2 separate regions of the Homo sapiens genome follow, and region 1 is linked to region 2. The links come from fine-mapping of genetic effects on gene expression. A gene starts in region 2. The other region holds a variant in brackets. All regions are shown on one strand. Distances are between the middles of the regions.

The links. PIP is the estimated chance that this variant, and not a neighbour inherited with it, causes the effect.
Region 1: its variant is the best candidate, but not a certain one, in a credible set for the expression of NCLN in whole blood (INTERVAL, PIP 0.61).

What each region holds. Positions count from the first base shown.
Region 1 is chr19:3,203,002-3,208,413 of GRCh38, reverse strand. It overlaps NCLN (nicalin), which reads right to left. Exons shown (of 15, transcript NM_020170.4): 7 at 4,570-4,658; 8 at 4,270-4,409; 9 at 3,663-3,841; 10 at 2,388-2,475; 11 at 2,224-2,262; 12 at 1,989-2,152; 13 at 1,163-1,216; 14 at 945-1,023; 15 at 1-785. The coding sequence ends at 726. Among named protein-coding and RNA genes, the nearest start is that of CELF5, 19 kb to the left of the region's middle. The variant G/CCGGGGG (reference allele first, on the strand shown) is at 2,342.
Region 2 is chr19:3,183,074-3,188,312 of GRCh38, reverse strand. NCLN (nicalin) reads right to left here and starts at 2,383. Exons shown (of 15, transcript NM_020170.4): 1 at 2,099-2,383. The coding sequence starts at 2,282. RefSeq lists a silencer at 1,897-2,466 and enhancers at 2,977-3,116, 2,423-3,305.

The DNA of each region.
Region 1 (5,412 bases), 20 kb before region 2:
GTGGGTCGGGGGTCGGGGAGGCAGGGGCCCTGCCAGGCCCCCACGAAGCAAAGGCTGTCAATGATGACATCAGACCCTGCAGTCGGAGAAGGGGAAGGCTGGGTGATGCAGCTCCCCGAGCCCACTGTCAGGGGGACGGGTCACTGAGACCACATGGGGAACAAAAGGCTCCAGGAGGGCTGGAATCCCAGAACCCCAGGGCTGGCACTGCCCTCCTCCAGGCAAGAAGGAGCAGAGATAAATAACCATGTCCACGCCACCATCGGGGAGCGGGAGGGGACGTCCTAGGACAGACACGGAGCAGGGAGCAGGTCAGGCCTGCAGTCCAGGCCCCTTGCGGCAGGAGGCGGTGGGCGGAGGCCGCGCGCGATCGGGCAGGGGGTCCCGGCGTCTCCTCTTTAATCGTGCATGTGTGCTTACACCAGACCGAGGGCGGCCGGCTCCCAGGACTGGGGGGCTCGTCCGCAAGTCCGTAGCCTGGCCCCGGGACGTCTCCCAAGCTCTCCTCCAAGGAAGTTCAAAGACAAGGAAAAGAAGAAACAATCCCCCCCCAGTCTCGGAGAGCAACAGAAAAAAGCTCTGTAATTCAGTGTTCCAACCACCGCCGGGGAGGGAGAGGGCCCCTGTCCCTGCAGGGCCGCCCGCGGCGGGGCAGTGTCCACTCACTCGTGCTCGGCCCCAGGGACTGTGGAGCGGCGGGGGCTCCGGCTGTGGGGGTGGCTGTGTCACTGTGTCTTGGCCTTCACGAGCAGCCTCTGGACGGTCTTGTAGAGGAGGCTGAAGTGCTGGGGACACAGCAGGAGGGAGTGAGGATGTGGGCGGGGCCAGAGCCCCAGGTCATGTGACTCTAGGCTGAGCCAGGGGCCAGGATGCACTTGGAGACGCCCAGCCCAGCTCCTCCCGGCGGGCGGCCCCTGCCCCACCTGAGCCTGGGCACTGCTCACCTGGACAGCCACGTAGGCCATGCCGAGGTAGGCAGCAATGCCAACAGCCAGGAGCAGGTCAAAGACGGCCGGCTTGACTCTGTGGAGAAAGCAGGGTCCCTGAGGTCGAGGATGGTGCGCGGCAGTAACATGAACCCCTAGACCCCCGTGGGCCGCAGTCCCCTCGGCTGTAACCCGTAGGGGGTGAAGGGCTCCAGGTCCCGCTGGCCACCACTCACCTGTACGCATTCATCACTTGCTTCAGCTGGTCGTAGAAGACAAACTCTGGGTCCCTGGGGAGAGAGCACTTTCTCAGGGGGCACCACTGCGCCCAGCTAATTCTTAAAAAAGGGTTTGTAGAGATGGAGACTGGGCACGATGGCTCACACCTGCAATCCCAGCACTTTGGGAGGTTGAGGCAGGCGGATCACTTGAAGTCAAGAGTTCAAGACCAACCTGGCCAACACGGTGAAACCCCATCTCTACTAAAAATTAAAAAAAATTAGCCGGGCATGGTGGCGGGTGCCTGTAATCCCAGCTACTCAGGAGACCGAGGTCCGAGAATCACTTGAAGCCGGGAGATGGAGGCTGTAGTGAGACAAGATCACGCCACTGCACTCCAGCCTGGGTGACAGAGGAAGACTCCATCTCAAAGACAAATAAATAAAAACTTTAAAAAGTTTGTAGAGATGGGGTCTTGCTATGTTGCCCAGGTTGGTCTCCAACTCCTGGGTTCAAGCGATTCTTCCGTCCCGGCCTCCTAAGTAGCTGGGATTACAGGTGCCCACTGCCACATCCGCCTAATTTTTGTATTTTTAGTAGGGATGAGGTTTCACTATGTTGGCCAGTCTGGTCTTGAACTCCTGACCTCAAGTGATCCACCTGCCTCGGATTCCCAAAGTACTGGGATTGCAGGCACAGCCGCCGTGTCCGGCCCTCATCCCACCCTCTCTTTGTATTTGCTCCACCTGGCATCCCCCAGGGGTGAGGGGGTGGGAGATGCAGTAGGGGGAGGTCCCCCTCGGCCCCAGGCTGAACGGGGCCAGCGCGGAGCCCCAGCCTCACCGCTTGTCAGCCTTGACGTGGTGCTGCTTCACGTCCTTCAGGTAGCGGCTCAGGTGGTGCTCCAGCGTGCTGAGGAAGGTGCTGTCCTTGTCCACCAGCTGCGCGGCCCGCGGCTGGTTGGTGAGCCAGTCCATCACCGAGTCCAGCTGCTCCTGCTGGATCTGCTGTAGGGACGGTGGTGGTAGTCATGGCCTGGCCCCGCCCACCCACCCACCCACTGGCCTGGCCCCCTTACCATCTGCTCTGTGAACACCGGCATGTCTGGGGGTGTCCCCTGCGGAGAGAGGAGGGGATGGCCCTGAGTCCAGGCCCCTGCAGTGGGGCTGGGGCCAGGGGTGGGGCCGGGGCCGGGG[G/CCGGGGG]CAGGGCTGGGGCTGGGTCTGGCGGCACAGAGGGCTCAGGGCTCACCTTCTCTGTCAGGTTGTAGATGACTCGAGTCAGGGCCTCTGCAATGATCCTCGTGTTACGGGTCAGGGTCTTAGAATCCACCCGGGACCTTCACGATTCAAAAACAATGTTTTAAAATGTGGACTTTGGGCCAGGCAAGGTAGCTCTCACACTTGTAATCCCAGCACTCCAGCCTAGGAGACCGTGAGACTCTGTCTTTAAAAAAAAAAAAAAATTAAGCTTAGCTTTAACTACTTGGCTAACATGTAGATGCAGATTCACTGGGGGCCCCACACCTCCAGGCCCCTTGCCCTGACCCGTCCCTGTGCGCAGGTAAGGCTCACGCCCTGAGGCCTTGGTTCCTTCTGACTCGGTTTTCTGCTCTTCCAGAATTTAAACTGGACTATTCCGTCCTGGTGGAAGAATCCATTCTGGGACCCTCTGCAAATCCCAGGTGGCCCTCCTGGGCTGACCCCTGGTGGTCTTGAGAGAGCTCAGCACAGCTGGGACAGCCGTGCACCCACCCTCATTTCCTGGCAATCTTTCCTGGCTGGTGGGCGACCGCCACCTCCATCCTTTCCAGGACTGCGATTACCCAGGGATGTGCCCCTCCCTCCCGCCACTGGCTTCTGCAGGCCTCCGATGGCTGAGCTCAAACCACTCCTGAGGGCCCAGTGACCGCAGAGCAGAGTGGATGAACGGGAAGGATCTATGCCGGGACTGCGGGCGCTGGGGGAGGAGACGGCGCCCACCTGCTGGTGCCAGGACTGGCCAGGAGTGTGCCTGGGGTGGCCAGACAGTTCCAGGCTCCACAAAAGCCTGCCCAGGGGCTCACATGATGGCAGAGAGACGGGCAGGACACAGGGTCAGAGGACATAAGAAGCCAGAGACACAGTGCCCAGAGGGAGGCGGGGCGAGGAAGGGCCGGGGTGTGGTGGCGGGCCAGGCTCCCCAAGACGGTGGCCGGGGCCAGGCAGGACTTTCGGGCTGTGGCAGGGCCCTGAAGAGGCCCAGAGGCAGGAGCTGCTTGCTCCTAACTCAACAGGTGACGGGGTCTGGGGGTCCTATATGGGGCCACGACCTCAGGCTGCTGGCCTCGCCCTCCCTAGCCCCAGTAAGGAAGAGCTTGCGAACGGCCTGACCGTGCAGCCGGCCTTGGCCACGCACCGGCCCCTTCCTCGCAGCCTGTGTGTGGGGGCCGCTCCCTCCAGGCTCTCATGGCCTCTGCAGTTGCGACCAGTGGCTCAGCCCCCAGGAAAGCCCTAGGAGGGGCCGGGCAGGTGCTGCCGCGCTCACCGCACGTCCATGATGCTGCTGCGCTGGCCGTCACGGTGGCTCTCCAGGTGGGACAGCGTGAAGGCGGGCAGTCGGCGGATGGCGAAGCGCTCGTGCTCCCAGGCCAGCACGTCCTCCGCCAGGTTGATCCGCTTGTGCACCATGGAGAACCGTACCTCAGGGAACTGGTGCGCGGCCACCTGCAGCCGGAGGCGCCATTAGCAGAGGGCAGGCGGGGATGGCGGCCACCCCAGCCCATTCCCCAAATGCTCCAGGGGCCTCCCAGAACCCCCGAGGGTGCAAAATGAGGAGAAATCCACCTGCCCCCGGGGTCCCCCTAAGGCCTGCTGGAGCCCCGGCGGGCAATGAGCAGTGGGTAAGGAGGGACAAGGGGACACTCTGGGACAGGACACCCCAGCCCGGCCCTGACGCAGTGTGCCCCTCAGAGCCCCGGGGTTGGACAGCAAGGACACCCCAGGACAGAACACCCCAGCCCGACCCCGACACAGTGTGGCCCTCAGAGCCTGAGGGGCGGACAGCAAGGACACCCTGGGACAGGATGCCCCAACCCGGCCCCGATGTGTGTGCTCCGCAGAGCTCCGGACCCATCCATGAAAGGGGCACCCACCGTCTCCAGCTCCCGCAGGAAGGCGTGCTGCAGGGTGCCCTCCCGAGGCGGCTTGGACACGTGCAGGTGCAGGCTGCTGCCCCGGCCCACGGTGTCCAGGCACAGCACGAAGGCCACATTGTCCTGAAGCAGGCTGGAGTCTGCAGGACACCGAGAGCTGGCGGGGTGGGTGGGGACCAGGAAGTGGCCCCCGGCCCTCCCTCTGTGCCTCCTGGCTGCCCCCATGGCAACCCCTGGGCCTCCGTGCCTCCCCACGGCACCACCACCGCGGCACCCCCACCCCCACCCGGGGCCGCTCACCTGTGTGGTCCAGGTTGTCTTCCAGCCAGCGCTTGGTTCCCTGGTAGTTAAACTTGCCTCCTCCAGACGCAAAGAACAGGAGGTTGTAGCTGGGAGGGAAGACCCAGTGTTAGCTTTGACGGGCAAGCGCCTGGGGTGGAGGAGGGACCAGGCCAGGTCACAGGTCCCCCAGGAAGGGTATGAAGGTCTCCCCAAAGCAGGAAATCCTGACCAGCCCCTTAGGGCGGGGCATGACCCCTCGGCCCTGTGGACACTGGGGCTGGATGGTTCTCTGAGGTGAGGCTGTCCTGGGCACTTCAGGGTGCTGAGTGGCATCCCTGGCCTCACCCACCCCATACCGGGAGCTTCCCCCAATGACAACTGCAAATCACTCAGTGTCTCCAGGCAGCAGGGCCACCCCACGTTAGACCCCAGCTCTAGAGGCTTCTCTGAGCCCAGGAGGAACCGGGGTGACCGACCAGGCAACAGACACGAGGAGATCAAAAAAATAAAGTCTATTCACTTAAAGAAGAAGAATTCTTTTTTTTTTTTCTTTTGGGACGGAGTTTCGCTCTTTCTGCCCAGGCTGGAGTGCAATGGTGCAGTCTCGGCTCACTGCAACCTCTGCCTCCCGGGTTCAAGCAATTATCCTGCCTGAGCCTCCCAAGTAGCTGGGATTACAGGCATGCAGCACCACACCTGGCTAATTTTGTATTTTTAGTAGAGACAGGGTTTCAACACGTTAGGCAGGTCTCGAACTCCTGACAGGTGATCCACCTGCCGCAGGCTTCCAAAGTGCTGGGATTATAGGCATAAGCCACCCAGGCAGGCCAAAAATTCTAATGGAACACAGCCTTGGCTATT
Region 2 (5,239 bases):
GGGACAGTGTAGGGAGCCGCCAACATGCATTCCCTGGGTGGGTTCTTGGGGAGAGAAAGGGGGCCCACACCTGCCCAGGGACAGTGTAGCAGCCACCAGATCACACCTGCCCGGGGGGCTGGAGGGAGGCCGGGTGAGCTGGAGGACCAGGCAGGAGATGCCAAGAGTGTGAACAGGGTATCTCGAGCTCTAGGAGTGGGGTCTTTGGGGTGCAGACTGCCCTGGAAACCCCACGGAAGCCGCTATGAGAGCCGCAGGCACGCGTGGCTACTTGCGTTTATTACCCTCAAGCAGCGCTGAAAATCCTGCCCCCCGGTTGCACAGGCCACGCTTTGGGGGCTCGGCAGCCTCCTGTGGCTGCTGGCTCCTGTGCCAGGCAGCAAAGATGGAGGCGATTCTACAGGATGGTGCCCGTCAGGACCCTTCCCCCGGGAAAATCCCAAGCAGCACGGAAAACGCGGTCACTGCATGAGGAGCCTCTGGCCTTCCACTCCCACCCTCCAGAGCCTGGGCCTTGGGTTTATACACCACCACTGTGGCCCCAGGGCGCTTCCCCTGGACACTGTGGACATTAGGGCCGGATCGTTCTCTGGGGTGGGGCCGTCCTGGGCACTACAGGGAATTGAGCAGCGTCCCTGGCCTCCACCCACTCCATGCCAGGAGCACCCGTGGTCGTGACAACCACAGATGTCCCCAGACATCACCCAGCGTCCCCTCGGTTGACAACAATGGCTCTAAGTAAAAAAATCGTAACTCTGGGGCAAAATGGGACCTGAGGCCAAAGTCTGGTTCCATCTCCAGAGATGGGCTCCCCAAGGGCTGGCAGAAGCTGGGGGTCCCCGCGCCTCAGGTTGAGCCTGAGATGTGACGAGAGGGACCAATCCAAGAGAATCCGGGCTGGGAACTAAGGGGGCCAGGAGAACAAGCGGACGGGACTCCTTCACAGGGAAGGCCAGGCCTTGACTTCCAGGGACCTGAGGGGCCAGGCTGAAAAGAAGAAAAACCAGGGACCAGGTTCTGGAATGTCAGGGACAGCTATAGCCAGGCAAAGACAAGGGGATGTGGAATGGTCTAGACACTGGGGTCAGGGCCACGACGGGAGGGGGCGAGGCTGTTGAGTGGGAGACTTGCAGAATGCAAGGGCAAGGGGGTGCGAATTTGGAAAGGGAAGAGGAAATCCTGGAAAGATGGAACAAGTGGGGTTCTGGGAAGTGGGTGTGAGGAGGCTGAGCTGAGGGCGTGGGTATGCATCAAAGGCGGGACAGAAAGGGGGTCAAAGGGAACCCCAGGCGAGTGGACTGAACTGGGGACGTGGGAGGAGACCAGGGAAGCTGGGCTAGCAGATTCTGAAACATGACTCACGAACTGGGACCAGAGAGCGTCAGGGGTCTGGGGACAAATGTGCCCTTGACGTGGGGGCCGGTGACTAGAGCGAGAAAATTCAGGGGAGTTGAATTTGGGCACTGGACAAAATGCACTTGGCACCCAGGGCCGTGGGAGGGGGTGGGGAATGCTGGACCACCGCGTCGGGTGGCTCAGCCTGGCAGAAATCAGTGCAGGGACCTTTAACTCCAAACGCAGTCAGCTAAAGGCGAGAGGCCTGGGAACACGGACGTGACCCAGTGAATCCAGAGACCAACCAGATGGTCTCCAGAACAGGACCCTGGGAGCTGGAGGTCAGGACGGGAGCGTCTGCTCAAGTGAGCCCGGACCAGGAAGCCTAAGGGGCGGAGGGGGCCCAGGAGGGAGAAACTCGGCAAGGCAGGCAGACGCCGGCCCAGCTGGGGACAGGAGAGAGGGGACTTAGGGCTCCAGGGACGCGGGACGCTTGGCCCGGCCATGGGTTCCGGGGCAGGGAGACCTAGGCAGGGGCCGGGGGCTGTGGGAGCGAGCGCGGGGGGTCCCTGGGCGCTAGGCAAGGAGAGCAGGGATTCCAGGGCGCCCGGGGGTCCAGGGCGGCAGGGCTCTGCCTCGCCTGGGGCCTGAGCATGGGTCGGGCAGCCCAGGCCGGAGCTAGGGATCGGCCTGGGGATCGCCGGGCCGGAGTGGCGTGGCCGGGGAGCCCGGGGAGCCCCGAGGGTGGGCCGGGGACACGCACCGTAGGGCTGGCCCTGCAGGTCGTACTGCTGCATGCGGTACACGGTGAACTCGTGCGCGGCGTCGGCGGCAGGCAGCGGCGGCGCCACCAGCAGCAGCACAGCGGGCAGGAAGACGATGAAGCCGAGCGGCAGACAAGACGCCTTCAGCATGTTCTCCAGCACCTCGCCCGCTTCCTCCAGCATCCTGGCCGGCGGCGGGGCCGCGCGGGGCGGCAGCTGGGACGGGACGGCGGCGGCGGCGGCTCCCGCGGACTCACCTCGGCATGGGTAGCCGCCGGGGTCCTGCGGGCGCCGCGCGGGGCAGCCCGCACTCGCCCTGAGGTCCTGTGGGCACCGCGGCGAACCGCCCCGCCAGCCGCGCTGCCTGTCGGGAATTGTAGTCCGTCCGTCCGGCGCTCGCGGAGCCCTGTGGGAGTTGTAGGCCCACTCTGGAACTCCCGGAAGGTGCGGCAGGCTGTTCGGCTAATACCGTTGAGGTTTCACATAAACTCCAAGTCATAAAATGCAATAAAATGCTTTAAAAAACTATTTCGCGATATCACTTTCTTAACCTTGTCTTTGGCGTTGGGGGAGCTAGGGTGAGGGGCGAAAGGTGGGGACAGGACGTGACCTTGCGACCTGGAAGGAAGTTGGGGATAAAGAGAAAAGGAAGTGCCTGCCTGGCGCGCTAGGTCTTCTGGGAGTTGTAGTCCCGTCAAACACACAAAGGGTCACGGGAACTGTAGTCGTCCTGGCAGAAATTGCTGAGAAAAACAAAAATCACTTAAAACTCCCGAGGATGTAGATGTCAAACTCCACGAAGGCAAAAACTTTTGTCTGTTTTGTGCATATGATGTATCCCCGGCATCTAGCACAAGACCTGGCGCACGGCGGGTGGCCTATACCATTTTTGAATGAATGAATGAAAAATAGAAAGTCATGATAGTCAGTTCCTAAGGGAGGCCGCAGTGGGTTGTGGGACTTGTAGTCTGGAACCTGCGGTTTGTGCAGGGGTCGGTGGCAGGTATTTATATTTATCTTTATTCATATTTGGGGCATACTTATACTAAAAAAGTATTTGTTGTTCATCAGAAATTTAAAGTTAAAACCCAGTGTCTCAGGGCTGGAGGTACCTAAGGAACGTCCCTTTGTACAGATGGGGAGACTGAGCCCCAGGGTGCAGCAGACAGTAGCCCTGGCTCTCAGCACGTTATCATCCCAGGCTCCGTACAGCTGCCTAAGGAGTCAGGGCTTCCTTTCTGTCCCAAGTGAGAAGTGGCATTGGTGCCGATTAAGAGCCTGGGCTCAAATCCCAACTCCTCCATTTCCCAGCTGTGTGGCTTTGGGCAAGTCGCTTCACCTCTCAGAGTCTCAGTTTCCTCAGATATAATGATAAAGAATCAAGCACTCTCCCTGCCAGCAGCATGTGAGAATTCTGTTTGTTTGTTTGTTTGTTTGTTTGTTTTTGAGATGTAGTCTCTGTCACCTAGGCTGGAGTGCAGTGGCTTGATCTCAGCTCACCGCAACCTCCACCTCCTGGGTTCAAGCAATTCCTGTGTCTCAGCCTCCTGAGTAGCTGTAAATTACAGGCGTGAGCTACCGCGCCCGGCTAGAAAGGGAGTTTCTGAGTGTGCTGCTGGGTCACTGAGCACCTACTGTGTGCCAGCCGTGTGGTGGGTGCTGGGGACACAGCCGGGACCCCAGCAAAGCCACACTATCCACCGACACGGAGCTCGAAGTCCAAAGGAGGAGGTGGATTGTGTGACCAGGGGTGATGGGAGCTGGGATAGAGGACACAAAGGCAGCTGGGAGAAGCCCAGAGGAGGCCTAGGGAGGAGAGGAAATCAGAGGAGGCTTCCTGGAGGAGGTGACACTTAAGCTGAAACTCAAAAGATGAGCCAGAGCAGATGAGTGAAGAAAGAGGGAAAGTTGTGCCCAGTATAAAGCAGAGCTGTCATGCAGGGAACACAGGCAGCTGTGGGAGCCTAGAGGAGACCTAGGGAGGAGGAGAAATCAAAGAAGACTTCCTGGAGGAGGTGACGCTAAAACTAAGGTACAAAGAATGAGCAGGCAGAAGTCAAGTGACGAAGGAGGGAAGGTGCGGGCTAACAAGGCCCCTTTATCAGGGACAACAAAGGAGGTTAAGCGAGAAGCCCCCAGAAGGGAAGGACCAAGAAATAATTCAGCTCAGCCAAAGCAGGGCAGAGGGGGCAACAGGGTCAGCCAACACGGGCCCAGAAGGCAGACAGAGAGCTCCAGGCCTGCCCAGACTCCACTTATCCCAAATTCCACCAACACCCCACCCTGCCTGCTGTGGTCCCCACTAAACACACAGAGAACAGGAATCAGGAAAAGATAAGAACTACCCTAGCTTATCATGCCTGCAGAGGGGTGTTTGGGACTTCACTGGTGAAGTGGCTGGCCACAGTTCCATCTGTCTGCAATTGGCCAGCCACAGTAGCTCATGCCTGTAGTCCCAACACTTTGGGAGGCTGAGGCAGGAGGATCACTTGAGCCCAGGAGATTGAGACCAGCCTGGGAAACATAGCAAGACCCTGTCTCTCTCTCTCTCTCTCTTTTTTTTTTTTTTTTTTTTTTGAGACGGAGTCTTGCTCTGTCACCCAGATTGGAGTGCAGTGGCACGAACTCAGTCCACTGCAACCTCGGCCTCCCGGGTTCAAGCAATTCTCCTGCCTCAGCCTCCCAAGTAGCTGGGATTACAGGCATGCACCACTACGCCTGGCTAATTTTGTATTTTTAGTAGAGACGGGGTTTCTCCATGTTGGCCAGGCTGGTCTCAAACTCCTGACCTAAGGTGATCCACCTGCCTCGGCCTCCCAAAGTGCTGGAATTACAGGGGTGAGCCACAGCACCCAGCCCCGTCTCTACAAAAAATATAAAAATTAGCCAGGTGTGGTGGTGTGCACCTGTAATTGCAGCTACTCGGAAACCCAAGGCAGAAGGATCACTTGAGCCCAAGAGATCGAGGCTGCAGTGAGCTATGATCACACCACTGCACTCCAGCCTGGGTGACAGAGCAAGACCCTGTCTCTAAAATATAAAAGAAAATAAAGAACTGTCCCATCAAAATCTACATGATCACATCCTAACCCCCAGGACCTCAGCATAGGATGTTATTTGGAAAATGGTTGTGGCAGATG